2 separate regions of the Homo sapiens genome follow, and region 1 is linked to region 2. Evidence: fine-mapped expression QTL. Tissue or cell type: whole blood. Region 2 holds a variant in brackets; the other region holds the start of a gene. All regions are shown on one strand. Distances are from middle to middle.

Region 1 (8,099 bases), 32 kb before region 2:
GTTACAATAAGGGGTTGCAGAGACCAAGGGTTTTTTGTTTTTGTTTTTGTTTTTTTGACAGAGTTTTGCTCTTGTTGCCCAGGCTGGAGTGCAGTGGCGCAATCTCGGCTCACCACAACCTCCACCTCCCGGGTTCAAGCGATTCTCCTGCCTCAGCCTCCAAAGTAGCTGGGATTACAGGCACCCGCCTCCACACCCGGCTAATTTTTTGTATTTTTAGTAGAGACAGGGTTTCGCCACGTTGGGCAGGCTGGTCTCAAACTCCTGACCTCAGGTGAATCCACCTGCCTTGGCCTCCCAAAGTGTTGGGATTACAGGAGTGAGCCACCGTGCCCGGCAAGAGACCAAGGTTTTATCATGTAGATGAAGCGTCCAGGTAGCAGGCCTCAGAGAGAATTGATTGTAAATGTTTTTTCTTCTTATCTTTTCTCTTTTTATTTTTTGAGACAGGGTGCCACTGCATTTCCCAGACTGGAGTGCAGTCACGTGATCATGGCTCACTGCAACCTCAACCTTCCCAGGCTCAGGTGATCCTCCCACCTCCGCCTCCCAAGTAGCTGGGACTACATATGCACACCACCAAACTGGGCTAACTTTTGTATTTTTTGTGTAGATGGGGTTTCACCACATTGCCCAGGCTGGTCTCAACCTTCTGGCCTCAAATGATCTGCCCGCCTCAGCCTCCCAAAGTGCTGAAATTACAGGCATGAGCCACCAGGCCTGTAAATGTTTCTTATCAGATTTAAAGAGTGTGTTCTATCAGTAATTCTAAAAGGGAGGAGGGTATGTTGAGGCATGTCCGGCTCCCCCTTCCCATCACGGCCTGAACTAGTTCTTCAGGTTCACTTTGGAAAGCCCTTGGCCTAGAGGAGGGGTCCACTCAGATGGCTGGCAGGCTTAGAATTTTATTTTTGGTTTATAGTCACTAAAGTTGGTATACAGGCGCCCACTACTAAATTCCACTGGCTTCAAAAATAAATAAATAAAAGATTAGAAGAAAAATATCCTCCAGATTTGGGAGATGTCCACAAGATTAGTTGACTCTGAGTTACAGGAGCTGGAAGCACTTGGGAAGTCAAGACTGGCTCTTCTCTTTGCTCTGTAAAATGCCCGGAAGTTCATGTAAGTGCCGTGCAGCCACCAAGGTGACAAGCATGAACCAGCCTCTGCCTAAAGTTACCCACTACCCAGAAGAAGGACTTTTCAATTCCAGATCTTGTGGCTTTTTTTTTTTTTTTTGAGATGGAGTCTTGCTCTGCTGCCCAGGCTGAAGTGCAGTGGCGCAATCTCTGTTTACTGCAACCTCCTCCTCCTGGGTTCAAGCGATTCTGCTGCCTCAGCCTCCCCAGTAGCTGGGATTATAGGCACGTGCCACCATGCCCAGCTAATTTTTGTATTTTTTAGTAGAGACAGGGTTTAATAATGTTGGCCAGGCTGGTCTCGAACTCCTGACCTCATGATCTGCCTGCCTCAGCCTCCCAAAGTGCTGGGATTACAGACGTGAGTCACCGCGCCCAGCCTCTTGTGGCTATTTCTACAGATCTGCTCCTGACAATAGGCAATGGACCAAAAATATTGAGGGTGACAGAGATGAAGAGAAGTACCTAAAGAAGGCCGGGCACAGTGGCTCGCGCCTGTAATCCCAGCACTTTGGGAGGCTAAGGCGGGTGGATCACGAGGTCAGGAGTTCAAGACCAGCCTGGCCAAGATGGTGAACCCCCATCTCTACTAAAAATACAAAAATTAGCCAGGCGTGGTGGTGGGCACCTGTATTCCCAGCTACTTGGGAGGCTGAGGCAGAGAATTGCTTGAACCTGGGAGGTGGAGGTTGCAGTGAGCCGAGATCACGTCACTGTACTCCAGCCTGGGCAACAAGAGCGAGACTCTGTCTGAAGAAAAAAAAAAAAAAAGATAGGCTGGTGCAGTGGCTCACGCCTGTAATCCAAGAACCTTGGGAGGCCAAGGCAGGTGGATCGCTTGAGGCCAGGAGTTTGAGACCATGCTGGACAACATGGTAAAACCCCATCTCTACAAAAAATACAAAAATTGGCCAGGTGTGGTGGCATGCGCCTGTAGTCCCAGCTACTCAGGAAGTTGAGGTGGGAAGATCACCAGAGCCCAGGGAGACTGAGGCTGTAGTGAGCCGTGATCATGCCACCGCACTCCAGCCTAGGTGACAGAGAGAGACACGGGAAAAAAAAAAAGAAACCTAAAGAAAAGAAAGGGTCTGCAGGTCCCCTAATCCAAAAGGAGAAAAGTCCTGAAGTTTTTGCTATTTTCACTCTAACCAGTATGGTGCCCAGAGATCCAAGTGGCAGATAAATGGCAAGCCTCCAGGATAGCACAGAGCTGGAGGGAAAGTGAGGGCTGCCTGACAAGGGAGGGCCACCCATCATACTCTCTCCCCAATGTTAATTCTTCCAGCCACTCCTGGCTCAAACAGGACGCTAAGAAGTATCCCCAAAGGGAGTCACCCCCACTGTTGCCCAGTAAATAATTTAAAAGCAAAAATGTAGGAAACTCAGGAGAAGGTCAAACAAGTCCACTAGAGGGAGCCCCAACCAACTCTATGCTACAGGGAGCCTCACAAAGCAATGTCTCAACACCTGTCTGAAAATCAACCACACAAGGGAATGGGGAAATGTAGCAATAGATTAAGTCACTAGGAGAGAAGATAGCCATGTAAACACGCAGCTAAAACACAGGCTTTTCAAGAGCTGCAAAATCAAACAATTAAAGATCAGGAAACTGATGCTGAGCAAAGTCAAATGGCTCGCCTCAGTTTACATATCCACAGTTGGGACTCAAACTCACATGTCTTGTCTCTAACCTGAGCTCTTTCCTCCACACTTGCATCCCTCTAGGTCAGTACCCTAGAGTCCATGGGTCCACTATTCCTCTGCGTCTCATTTCTCTGAAGTGGGAAACTCCCTGGACTACCTATTCCTGCACTTATTACCCTCATTCTACAGTGTACTGAAGAGGATCTTCGGTGGTCTGGGAGTTTTGTTTGTTTGAGACAGGGTCTCCCTCTGTCATCCAGGCTGGAGTGCAGTGGTGCAATCATAGCTCACTGCTGCCTCAACCTCCCAGGCTCAAGTGATTCTCCTGCTTCAGCCTCCCAAGTAGCTGAGACTACAGGTGTGCACCACCACACCAGGCTAATTTTTTAATTTTTTTGTAGAAATGAGGTCTCACTGTGTTGTCCAGGCTGGTCTCGAACTCCTGGCCTCAAGTAATCCTCCTGCCTCAGCTTCTCAAAATGCTGGGATTATAGGCACGAGCCACCGCCCCAGCTTAGATCTTCAGTTTTAAGCCTACTAATGTCATTTTGCTGGTGGGACCTCGGGATGTCAGTTGTCCAACATGGCTACTGTCAGTCCTTTTCCTCTGTATCAGCACCACATATTATCTCAGATGTGTACATCTGAATTTGGAAGTCTCCAAATTGCAGGCCATGTCTACATGGCAATGAATCATAACTAATCGACCTCCAAAGCCCTTTCTTTTCAAACTATACTTAGGATTTTGGGATAAGGAAAGAACTGACCCTTTGAGACCTTGATATTTTAAACTTTGTGAGCTGATTTAGCCCATTCCACCTTCCTGTGAACTCCATGTTTCCCAGTTGCCTGGACAACATACAGCCTCTGGAAACCCAACCTTCCAGCCCTCAGTCCTGCCCTCAAGAGAAATTTGCCACCAAGGATTGGCTCCCAGGACCCAGGCCCCGCCTCAGGCTCCTCGCTAGTTGGGCCTTCTCTCTGCCACTCCCCACGAGTGGGTCACTCCACGGGGAGCCCCAACGCTGGCAGGAGAGGATCCTACAGGTAGGAAGTGAGGGTTGAGGATGATGGGAAGAGGGAGGGGAGCAGGTACAGGGATTTCGTTTCTCTAAAAGAGAGTTGCAAGGAATGACTTCTGTACAGAGTCAGCCTGGTTGAGAGAAAAAACTCCATCCTCCCCACTGACCCCAACCCTGTCTGAGGTTCCAAAGAGACTGTGAACTGACTTTTCTGAAGGATATGAGAGACAAATTTGGACTCAGGAGAGTCTCCTGGTTCAGTCTAAAGCTCAGGAAAGCATCCCTGTGTCCAGACCTAAACATAAGGTCCCCTCCTTCTCCCAGGACAGCAAGGAGATGCCACCTAAAAACAAAGAAAAAGGGAAGAAATCTGGGGCACAGAAGAAGAAAAAGAACTGGGGTGAGTCATGGTGGGTGGAGGTGCCCCCTGCTTCTCCATGTTCTGCCATGAAGACCACGCAGAGCTCCTCCAGAGAGAATTCAGCCTTCTGCAGGACAGGATGGAGCTCTCTTGACCTACCTCTTTCATGTCCTCACAGCCAGATCCAGGGAGCTGAGGAAGTGGGGAAATGGTCACCCACGCTCTCCTTTAAGCCCCATCTAGCTCTGTGCCTTCCTAATATATTTGTCATGTGTATTTTGCATATCTGTTATGTGCTGGTCGGTGAGGACACGGTGCTGACTTCAGTAGACTCTGCCACTGTGGATACCTCATTTAGTGGTCCTCAGGTCTGCTGTGGCAAAAGTGCAGGGTGTGGGGTGAGGATGTGAGCAGAGTGAGGAATGCTGAGATCATGAAGAGCTGAGGCTCTGCCACTTGCCACCGCAGGTGCAGATGTGGTGGCCGAGTCCAGGCACAGGCTGGTGGTGCTGGAGAAGGAGCTGCTCCGAGACCACTTGGGTAAGGAGGGTAGAAGCTGGCATGGGTGGGCAACAGGGGAAGTGAAATGGGGCATTTCTGTATCCTGGGGGATTGGAGAGTTGGAGGTATGGTGGGGGGTTAAGTTGACCCTAACCATCCCCTAGTGGAAAAAGATGATGAGAGAGGGTGGGCAGTGAGAGTTGATAAAGGAAGGTGTTTTTTTTGTTTGTTTGTTTTTTGTTTTTTTTGGTTTTTTTGACAGAATTTTGCTCTATTGCCCGGGCTGGAGTGCAGTGGTATGGTCATAGTCCACTGTAATCTCTAACTCCTGGGCCGCAACAATCTTCCCGCCTCAGCCTCCCGAGTAGCTGGTATTACAGGTGCACACCACCATGCCTGGCTACTTTATTTATTTATTTTTTTTTTTTTTTTTTTTTTTTTTTTTTGAGACAGAGTCTTGTGCTCTGTCGCCCAGGCTGGAGTGCAGTGGTGTGATCTCGGCTCACTGCAACCTCTGCCTCCCAGGTTCAAGCGATTCTCCTGCCTCAGCCTCCCGAGTAGCTGGGATTACAGGCACGTGGCCACCACACCTGGCTAATTTTTGTATTCTTAGTAGAGACGGGTTTTCACCATGTTGGCCAGGCTGGTCTCGAACTCTTGACCTTGTGTCCCACCAGCCTTGGCCTCCCGAAGTGCTGGGATTACAGGCGTGAGCCACCGCGCCTGGCCCTATTTATTTTATAGAGACAAGGTCTCACTCTGTTGCCCAGGCAGGTCTCAAACTCCTGGCCTCAAGCAATTCTCCCACCTAAGCCTCCCAAAATATTGGGATTACAGGCATGAGCCACCATGCCAGGCTATCCGAAAAGAACATAGAGGGAGTTTTTACTTCTTAATAATGAGGAGCCTGTGAGACTCTAGGGATAAAAAACAAAAACAACAAAACCCAGAGAGAGAGTAAGAGGCTGGACACCCCACCACCAGATTTCTAGAGGTGGGCAAAGTCCATCACGTTCATGGGGGCTGATTTAGTGGGACCCAGCCAGTCCTGACGGCGGCTCTGGGACTGCTCACAGCTCTACGGAGGGATGAAGCCCGTCGAGCCAAGGCTTCCGAAGACCAGCTGAGGCAGAGGCTGCAAGGGGTGGAGGCTGAGCTGGAAGGGGCCCGAAGTGAAGGGAAGGCCATATATGCAGGTGTGTGGTCGGTTAAGCAGGTGGGCAGGAGACAGGGGCTTGGAGGAGGACAACCAACAGGGTCAGTTGATGCAAGGAAGGGAAACAAGGAGGGCTTCCGACTGCCAGGCCTGGTCTTGGTCTTTCCCAAACAGTACAAATCAGGAAGGATCCTGCAGGAACCAAAGGCAGGTAGGTTCCTGGGATCCCAGGCAGGGGCCTTCCAGGATGCCTGGTGCCATGTGCTTGATGCTGTGTAGGATACACATGCAGTCATAGCCATCATCTCAATCAGCCCATGGGCGGGGAGAAGGGCTAGCATCCCCATCCAAAGCTGGACTGGGGGAGGTAGGTCGGGCTTCCTGTCCCTTCCTCAGGTTTTCATGGTCTGCAGCTTCTCAGAATCACAAAAAGAACCAAGAAGGCCTTTGTGCTCCTGTTCCACTAGACCAAGTAGAGTCTTCCCCACCCACAACTTCATTTCCTTTCTCCATCCCTCCATCTCCAACCTGGGTCCCTGGTGGCCCACTGCCCCCACCCCAGAGATGAGTCGCCAGTGCCATGCCCTGCAGGAGGATATGCAAACCCGCAGCAAGCAGCTGGAGGAAGAAGTCAAAGGCCTTCGGGGGCAGCTAGGTAGGTTTCCCCACCCTCCAAGCCCCTTCTCTCCAAGAGTTGCAGCAAGGGCCAGCATGAAGGGGTAGACTTCAAAGTCTCTGCTCCAGAAAGCTGCCGTCTGGGCTCTTGGATCACTTTCCCCACTTTCGCTGACCCTCCACCACTGAGGACTGCAGCAGAGGGTTCGGGATACCAAAAATCTCTGCTGTAAGTAAAGAAGAGGCTCCAGGCGCGGTGGCTCAGGCCTGTAATCCCAGCACTTTGGGAGGCCAAGGCGGGCGGATCACCTGAGGTCAGGAGTCCAGGAACAGCCTGGCCAAATGGCAAAACCCCGTCTCTACTAAAAATATAAAAATTAGCCGGATGTGGTGGCGCACACCTGTAATCCCAGCTACTCGGGAGGCTGAAGCAGGAGAATCGCTTGAACCCAGGAGGCAGAGGTTGCAGTGAGCCGAGATCACGCCATTGCACTCCAGCCTGGGCAACAGAGCAAGACTCTGTCTCAAAAAAATAAATAAAAATAAAAAAGAAGATGTAGGCCTCACACCCCATTTCCTCCTCTCAAGTCCAGCCCTAACTCCCCACCACTGCCATGTCTCTTGTGAGCAAAACATATTCCCTTTTAGTTTAGCTGATTTCTACAATGAAACTAAGGGGAAATGTTTGACTTATTTACTTCTGTATCTTCAAGACCTAGCATCTGGTAGATCCTAAATAACTGTTCACCAAATAAATGAATAAACACTCCTAATAAGCAAAAATATTTTTAAAAACCAGGAAGCCTTTGCTTCTCTTGTCTCTTGCTTACAAAATAATGTTGAAATATCTCAGCATGACACATGAGCTCTTTCACAATTTTGGTCTCAAAGTTTTCATACCTTAAAAATGCCTTCAACCGGGTGCGGTGGCTCACCCCTGTAATCCCAGCACTTTGGGAGGCCAAGGCAAGAGAATTGCTTGAGGCCAGGAGTTTGAGACCAGCCTGGCCAGTATGGTGAAATGCCATCTCTACTAAAATTACAAAAATTAGCTGAGCATGGTGGCGTGTGCCTGTAATCTCAGCTACTTGGGAGGCTGAGTCAGGAGAATCACTTGAACCCAGGAGGCGGAGGCTGCAGTGAGCCGAGATCGCACCACTGCACTCCAGCCTCGGCAACAGAGTAAGATTCCAACTAAAAAAAAAAAAAAAAAGGCCTTCGGTTTAGCTATAGATGGCCAGGAGCTGCTTATCTGCCATTCAGACTCTGGGTTCCTTTCCTAATCTTTGCTTTACCTCAAATTCCAAGTCAATCAATGACTCAATTGTTTTTGTTTTTGCTGTTGTTGTTTTGGGGATTTTTTTGTTTTTTGTTTTTTGTTTTGAGACGGAGTTTCACTCTGGTCGCTCATTCTGGAGTGCAATGGCAAATCTCGGCTCACTGCAACCTCCACCTCCTACGTTCAAGCAATTCTCCTGCCTCAGTCTCCCGAGTAGCTGGGATTACAGGTGTGCGCCACCATGCCTGGCTAATTTTTGTATTTTTAGTAGAGATGGAGATTCACCTATGTTGGCCGGGCTCGTTTCGGACTCCTGACCTCAGGTAATCCGCCCTCCTCGGCCTCCCAAAGTGCTAGGATTACAGGCGTGAGCCACCGCACC
Region 2 (8,099 bases):
TAGCACTGAGCACCTCACCCCCACAAGCCAGGTCCAGCACTAGGCCCTGGGCTGCCAACCACAGCAAGGCAGGCACCTCACTTTAATGGAATCAACTACCACATTTACAAATGATGTACTTCAAGGCCGAGGCAGGAGGATCACTTGAGACCAGGAGTTTGAGACCAGCCTGGGTGACATAGTGAGACCCTGTCTCTATTTAAAATGAAAATAGAAAATAAAAATATAAAAAACAGACAAACAAATGATGTACTTCAGTGGCAGAGGCAAGGCATTAGGAGAGTCTGGAAAAGGGAGTGCAGAGGAGGTAACATTTGTACTGGATCTGAAAAAATAAATCAGAGGACCAGCCGCGGTGGCTCACACCTGTAATCTCAGCACTTTGGAAGGCTGGGGGTGAGGGCAGATCTCCTGAGGCCAGGAGTTTGGGACCAGCTCAAACTCGTCACCATGGCCAACATGGTGAAACCCCCGTCTCTACTAAAAATAACAAAAATTGGCCAGGCATGGTGGCTCATGCCTGTAATCCTAGCACTTTGGGAGGCCAAGGCAGGCGGATTGCCTGAGCTCAGAAGTTCACGACCAACCTAGGCAACGTGGTGAAACCTCATCTCTACTAAAAATACAAAAATTAGCCGGGCTGGGTGGTGCATGCCTGCAGTCCCAGCTACACAGGAGGCTTAGGCAGGAGAATCGCTTGAATCCAGGAGGCGGAGGTTGCCGTGAGCCAAGATCACGCCACTGCATTCCAGCCTGGGAGACAGAGCAAGACTCTGTATCAAAAAAAAAAAAAAAATCAACCAGACGTGGTGGCATGGGCCTGTAGTACCAGCTACTCAGAAGGCTGAGGCACAAGAATTGCTTGAACTTGGGAGGTAGAGGTTGCAGTGAGCCGAGATCATGCCACTGCACTCTAGCCTGGGAGATAAAGCAAAACCGTGTCTCAAAAATAAAAACAAAAGCACAAAAAATTAGCTGGGCATGGTGGCACATGCCCATAATCACAGCTACTCAGGAGACTGAAGCAGGAGAATTGCTTGAACCTGGGAGGCGGAGGTTGCAGTGAGCCAAGATTGCACCACTGCACTCCAACCTGGGCAACAGAGAGAGACCCTGTCTCAATAAATAAATAAATCAGAGAAAGGAAAGGCAGGGCATCCCAGCAGCAGGGTGAACAACACATTTGCATTTTAAAAGAGGTTCTTCAAGGGGAGTAGAATAGGATGTGGGAGGGGAAGTATAGGAACCCCATGAATGTAGTCTCATGGGTGACAGTTTGGGCCTGGTAATCTCCTCTAGCTTCATTCCACTTACCTAGCCATGCAAGACAGTCACCTGGCAGCAGTTCCTGGACACAGCTCAGAGCAATCTGTTTTCCTCCCCTGTCACCTTCCCCATGGGTACGACAACCATGTAGGTTTTATTAATAACATATACTTTGACTGGCCTCTTGCAGACAGAAGTACTGTGAGTCATGCCGTGGGCATGTCCTCTGTTGTCTGACCTAGGATGCGGTGCAGTGGCTCACCCTATAATCCCAGCACTTTGGGAGGCCGAGGTGGGTGGATCACCTGAGGTCAGTAGTTCGAGACCAGCCTGACCAACGTGGTGAAACCCCGTCTCTACTAGAAATACAAAAAAATTAGCCAGGCTTGGTGGCAGGCACCTGTAGTCCCAGCTACTCAGGAGGCTGAGGCAGGAGAATCGCTTGAACCCAGGAGGCAGAGGTTGCAGTGAGCCGCGATCATGCCACTACACACTCCAGCCTTGGCTACAGAGTGAGACTCTGTCTAAAAAAAAAAAAAAAAGTTATAGCATGAGGCCGGGGTGTGGTTGCTCACACCTGTAATCCCAGCACTTTGGGAGGCTAAGGCAGAAGGATCACTCGAGCCCAGGAGTTTGAGACCAGCTTGGGCAACATAATAGAACCCTGACTCCACAAAAATAATTTTTAAAAAATTAGCTAGGCATGGTGGCACGCACCTGCGGTCCCAGCTACTCTAGAGTCTGAGATGGGAGGATCGCTTGAGCCCAGGAAGTTGAGGCTGCAGTAAGCCATGGTTGCACCCTGTACTCTAGCATGGGTGACAGAGCGAGACCCTGTCTCAAAAAAAAAGAATTATTGCATGGACAACTGTCTTAGTCAACTCTGGTCTTCAGCACTTTGCATAGGTCTGGACACAGAGAAGGTGACTGTGTTAAAGAAGATGATATCAGATGGGCGTGGTGGCTCACGCCTGTAATCCCAGCACTTTGGGAGGCCAGTGTGGGTGGATTGCCTGAGCTCAGGAGTTCGAGATCATCAGGGCTACATGGTGAAACCCCGCCTCTACTAAAAATACAAAAAAAATTAACCAGGTGTGGTGGCGCACGCCTCTAGTCCCAGCTACTTGGGAGGCTGAGGCAGGAGAATTGCTTGAGCCCCAGAGGCGAAGGTTGCAGTGAGCCGAGATCACGCCACTGCACTCCAGCTTGGGCTACAGAGTGAGACTCCGTCTCAAAAAAGAAAAAAAAAAAGATGATCTGTAAGCCCAGGTACTTAGGTACTTTGGCACTTAGGGAGAGAGGGCCCACTTCAAAACATACTTAGATGGGCAGGGAGCATTTATGCTCCAACTCAGCAGGTTACTGGGACTGGTGGGAGGAACATGGGGTAGGGCACAGTGGCAAGAGTACAGTATCTCGCCGGGAGTGGTGGCTCATGTCTGTAATCCCAGCACTTTGGGAGGCCGAGACGGGTGGATCACGAGGTCCGGAGATTGAGACCATCCTGGCTAACACGGTGAAACCCCGTCTCTACTAAAAATACAAAAAAATTAGCCAGGCGTAGTGGCAGGCACCTCTAGTCCCAGCTACTTGGGAGGCTGAGGCAGGAGAATGTCGTGAACCCAGGAGGCAGAGCTTGCTTGCAGCGAGCCGAGATGGTACCACTGCACTCCAGCCTGGGCGACAGAGAGAGACTCCATCTCAAAAAAAAAAAAAAAGTATTTACTGGATTTTTTTTTTAACAGGGTGTCACTCTATCACCCAGGCTGGGGTGCAGTGGCACAATCATAGCTCACTGTAATCTCAAACTCCTGGGCTCAAGTGATCCTCTCACCTCAGCCTCCCAAGTAACTAGGACTACAAGCATTGCCACCATGCCCAGCTAATTGTTTGTTTGTTTGTTTGTTTGTTTGTTTTTATAGAGAGCTGTAGTGATGGGGCCTCACTGTGTTGCCCAGGCTGGCCTCCCAAAGTCCTGGAATTACAGATGTGAGCTACCATGCCATGCCCTAGTATTTACGTTTTAAAAAGAGAAAGAGGGCCGGGCATGGTGGCTCATGCCTGTAATACTAACACTTTCGGAAGCTGAGCTGAGAGGAACGTTTCAGCCCAGGAGTTGGAGACCAGCCTGGGCAACGTGATGAGACCCCATCTCTACATTTTAAAAAATTTAAAAATTAGGCCTGAGGTTAGGAGTTCAAGAGCAGCCTGACCAACATGGAGAAACCCCGTCTCTACTAAAAATACAAAATTAGCTGGGCGTGGTAGTGCATGCCTGTAATCCCAGCTACTCCGGAGGCTGAGGGAGGACAGTCGCTTGAACCTGGGAGGCGGAGGTTGCAGTGAGCCGAGATCGCGCCATTGCACTCAAGCCCTGGCAACAAAAGTGAAACTCTGTCTCAAAAAAAAAAAAAAATTAAAAATTATCTGGGCATAGTGACATACACCTATCATCCCAGCTACTCAGGAGGCTGAGGGAGGAGGATCCCTTGAGCCCAGGAGTTCAAGCTGCAATGAGCTATGTTTGTACCACTGCACTACAGCCCAGGTGACAGAGTGAGACCCTGTCTTTAAATAAAAAAGAGAGAGAGAGTAAAATAAGAATCTTAAGACAGATGCTTTAATGGTGGGATTTCATGCCCTTTGATACGTCAAAAGCCATCTGTTGGCATCACTCCAGGGAGAAGGAGGCACCCAGAATGCCCTCTAAATCTAACTAGAATTCCAGGAGCTTGAACTCAGACTTCTTCATGCTTTCCACTCCCATCACAAACCTCCATAAGAAAAAAAAAAAAAGTCATTCACCTCCAGGTGAGCACCCAACCACTCATAACTTGGACCCTAGTTTAGTTTGGGTCACTTAAGTCTACATGTGGCACAACTAGGGTGTTCCAGGCAGCTGGCAGGTTGATGCCAGTCATTTCCTTCAGTCCCCAAGCCTCAGGCCCAGGAGAGAAGAGGGTGAGGCAGTGCGCTGCTTCTTGGGTTGTCCTGCCCCCAGTCCTCAAGAACTTCTGGACACTTGCCTGCTCCAAACCCCCAGCCACCAGACCCATTTGTATTCCTGGTGGCTGACAGTTCAGCCCCAGTAAGGGTGGCTGGGTGGGAAGAGAGGAGAAGCCAAGGGGAAAGGCGAGTAAGCCCAGCGAGGCCCCCGCCACTCCCATCCTAGGGATGGGGCTCCAGGGTCTTTCCTGCTTCTCACTGCCCTCCATAACCATTAACACACCCCACCCCTGCAGGCACACCCAGGGCTCAGTGAGTCCTGAAGACAGAGGCAGGCATCATTTGGGCAAGAACTCACTCATACAACAGACACGCAGCTCCCCCACACAGCATGTGGGTCCACCATGAACAAGTGCCATTGACCGATGCCAAGAAAGAGGACTTTGGAGGCAGAAGACCTGGTCTCCAGGCCTGGCTCCTCCTCCATTCGTTGAGGGCCCTTGGGTAGGTTACTTAACCCAAGTCTCAGTTCTCTCATCTACAAAACGGGTTGTCATGAAGGATGGTGCAGGGTCAGCATGAGACTCCCTTGAGATAATGAATGTGAAGCCTCTGTGAGATGGACAGCATGATGCAAATATTTCTTTTTTTTTTTTTTTTTTTTTTGAGACGGAGTCTCGCTCTGTCGCCCAGGCTGGAGTGCAGTGGCACGATCTCGGCTCACTGCAACCTCCGCCTCCCGGGTTCATGCCATTTTCCTGCCTCAGCCTCCCGAGTAGCTGGGACTACAGGCACCCGCCACCACGCCCGGCTAATTTTTTGTATTTTTAGTAGAGA[T/C]GGGGTTTCATCGTGTTAGCCAAGATTGTCTCGATCTCCTGACCTCGTGATTCGCCCGCCTCGGCCTCCCGAAGTGCTGGGATTACAGGCGTGAGCCACCATGCCCGGTGACACAAATATTTCTTAAGCTACATGTTCACTAGCTTGACATGTACCTGGGACCTACCATCCCCTGCCACAGACTCCCTACAGCTGACAGGCCTCATGCCAAATGCTTTGAAGGCCCCCTTGCAGGGCACAGTACCAGGTGGCAGATCCACACACATTTACACATTGCATACTGTATAAATATAGGTTTTATTAATAATGGGTGAAATCCCACAAATACAACTGGCATCCCTGTGTGATAGGAAGAATCTGTGGCAGGGTGAGAGGAGGTAGACAGGGATGTGTACAGGAAAAAGGGGGAAAATGAGCCCTGGGGGAGGGGAAATCAGAAGCAGAATGAGCCTGGACCCACCAGGAAAGCCAGACATGCTCTGAGTGTGTCTGCCACCTGGTGCCCAGGGCAGGCTGTTCTGATGCCCAGGGGCCACCTGCTGATAGGAACAGTGGAGGGACATGGACAGAAGTTTGAATGAGCAGCAGTGGCTGGGGAAGGGGTAGGGGAGTGAAGATGCCAGCATGGAGCACAAAAGGAGGGCCGTGGGTGGCAGTGGCCAAGGCCAACTTATGCCCGTGGTTGTGCTTGTGTTGGTTCCTGAACTCCAGGGATCTAGTGCCCTGTGCCACCCCTGGCTTGGGAGGAGGGAAGACTTGGGGGTAGACACCTGCAGTTCCTGTAGACACCCTGGGCAGCACCAGCCTTATCCTTAGAGTCTCCAACATGGGATCCCCAGGAGGAGGTTGGCACTGTCCTCCCACCAGCACCCGCCACCACCAGCATGCCACCATCACTCTTCCTCTGTGCTGTAGGGGATGGCAAGTGTGTAGGGCTGAGATGGCCTGTTCTCATGTATGTGCCTGTCACTCCGGAGAGGGAGGGAGCATCACGAGACCGTGCATGCGTTAGGGGCAGCGAGAAAGGAGGGTTGGGTCTTCCCCCACTCACCCCCCGCCCAGAATAAAGTGCATTCTCCAGTTCCAGTGGCAGGTGGGAGAGAAACACAGACATTATTGCACAGGTGCCACCAGGCCCTGCCCCCACCAAAGGTGATGGGGAGGGGGATGGGGCATCCCACAGCCCCAGGCCTCTCCAATCCCCAGGATTGGGAGTGGTGACCTAGACAGAAAACCCAGCTTCTGTCCTGGCAGATTGTCCAAGTCAGCCAGGGTCTAGGGGTGGAGAGAAGAGGAGGAGGAGGAAGAGACTTCCAGAGTCCTTCCCTGTCCATTTCAACATCCATAATGGGACTTCCAGTGGACTCCACCAGGGCCCAGCCCTGGAACTCCAACCTTATAGCAGCCCAGTTTACAAACACTTGTGTGGTGGGGACCCCCAGAGGGGGCCACTTTGGTCAGTTGTAAGTGGGGCCCTAGAGAGCCTAGGGCTCCCAGGCAGACAGCAGAGGAGGGTGCCATGGGCAGGAAGGAGGCAGCAGCCTCCCAGTAGTCTTTGCATGCAGGTGTTGGAGAGAGTAGGGAGGAAGCTACAAACCGCATCAACTTGGGAAGACTCCTGGGCATAGTGGGGAGGGCTGGAGCCCCCACTCCCAGAGCCCAGGCTGGGAGCGCAGTCCGACAGCCAGCCTGTGGAGGAGCCAAGGGAGGAGAGGATAGCCCCGCCAGGAACCAGTGCCCAAGTCTATAAGGTTAAAACAGTCCCAAAGGGCTGGGACTGGGGGCTTCCTGCTGCAGGGGCTGGGGTACAGGCTGGGGCAAGCCTCTATCTCTCTGACTTGACCCGGTAACGCAGCACAAGGTAGGCCAGCAGCCGCAGGGCTAGGAAGAAGATGCCCAAGACCAGGAAGTCCATGTAGAGCTTGGCATCCTCCACATCCAGCGCTCGGAGGATGCTCTGTGGCTCCCGGAACGGGCAGCGTTCCTCTAAACATGTCAGGTCTCCTCGCTCCATGCCATAGATCGTCAGGATCACACCCTCAAAGCCATACCTAGGCAGGCAGGGATATCAGATGGGATACAGCACACAGGGTCCCTGCTCTCTGAGAAAACTGCCAGAGCCCAGCTGCAATGCTGTCATCCCTGGGGTGCAGCCAGGGTGCCCCTGCCCAAAGGATAATGGGGCAGGCAGCAGACTTGGCACAACCCAGGAAGCCCTGGGTATGGACTCCTCCAGGGAGGAGCAGAGGCCAACGAGGAGGGCAGGGGTACTGACCTGACATAGGAGAGATAGGAGCTCCATTGCAGGTAAGTGGGGATGGTCTTGAAGCTGACAAAGAAGCCGGAGAACAAGAGGACAGGGATGGCGGTAACTGGGCCCACAAAAGTGGCCACCTAGAGGGGAAGGGAGGGGGCCAGGCCATCATAGGGGTGACCAGGACAAACCCAGGTTTCCTAGAGCTCCACCCTAACCCTTGCACCAGGCCCTGCTTCCTCCCACAAGACCTCATCCCGCCTTGGGAATTCCCAACTGCCAGCCCTCCCACCTGTAGGGAGTTGGAAGCAGCTCCGATCAGCAGCCCCAAAGATTGGGCCACCAAGGCGGTGGCGGTGGCCAGGGCTGAGAAGAGCAGGAAGCGGCTGGTCTCAGCGGGCTGGCCCGTCATCCAGTACACAATGCTGCAGTAGACCACCGGACACACCACCTGGGGAGTGGGCACGGGCTGGACAGTGGACTTCAAGCCAGGGGCACAGCAGCCAAGACCTCCACTCCACCCAAGGCTGGGCCTCTAGAATACCTATTCCCAGGGTGTCCATCCTGCCTCCACATTCTTGTTCAAGCTGTCCCCCAGATTGACACACGTCCCCTTCCTCCCTGGCCATATGACCATCACTTATCTCGTCTCACGTCTTCCGTTTGGTCCACCCTGACTGCTTCAGGCACGGTGACTCTTCCCTTCCCTGAGCGCCTAAAGTCCTTCCCACCTGGACCAGCTTATTCGTTATATTGTTAAGTAATTAACTCTCCATAGGAGAGCCATTTTGTTCCC

Evidence for each region. PIP is the estimated chance that this variant, and not a neighbour inherited with it, causes the effect.
Region 1: DRC12 starts here. The variant in region 2 is fine-mapped to the expression of DRC12 in whole blood (TOPMed, PIP 0.97).

Annotation. Positions count from the first base shown.
Region 1 is chr11:119,191,530-119,199,628 of GRCh38, reverse strand. DRC12 (dynein regulatory complex subunit 12 homolog) reads left to right here and starts at 3,788. Exons shown (of 7, transcript NM_001145018.3): 1 at 3,788-3,830; 2 at 4,130-4,205; 3 at 4,635-4,706; 4 at 5,744-5,863; 5 at 6,386-6,478. The coding sequence starts at 4,142. RefSeq lists an enhancer at 8,035-8,099.
Region 2 is chr11:119,159,882-119,167,980 of GRCh38, reverse strand. ABCG4 (ATP binding cassette subfamily G member 4) reads right to left here. Exons shown (of 15, transcript NM_022169.5): 13 at 7,596-7,754; 14 at 7,325-7,443; 15 at 5,328-7,100. The coding sequence ends at 6,875. Among named protein-coding and RNA genes, the nearest start is that of NLRX1, 4.8 kb to the left of the region's middle. The variant T/C (reference allele first, on the strand shown) is at 5,050.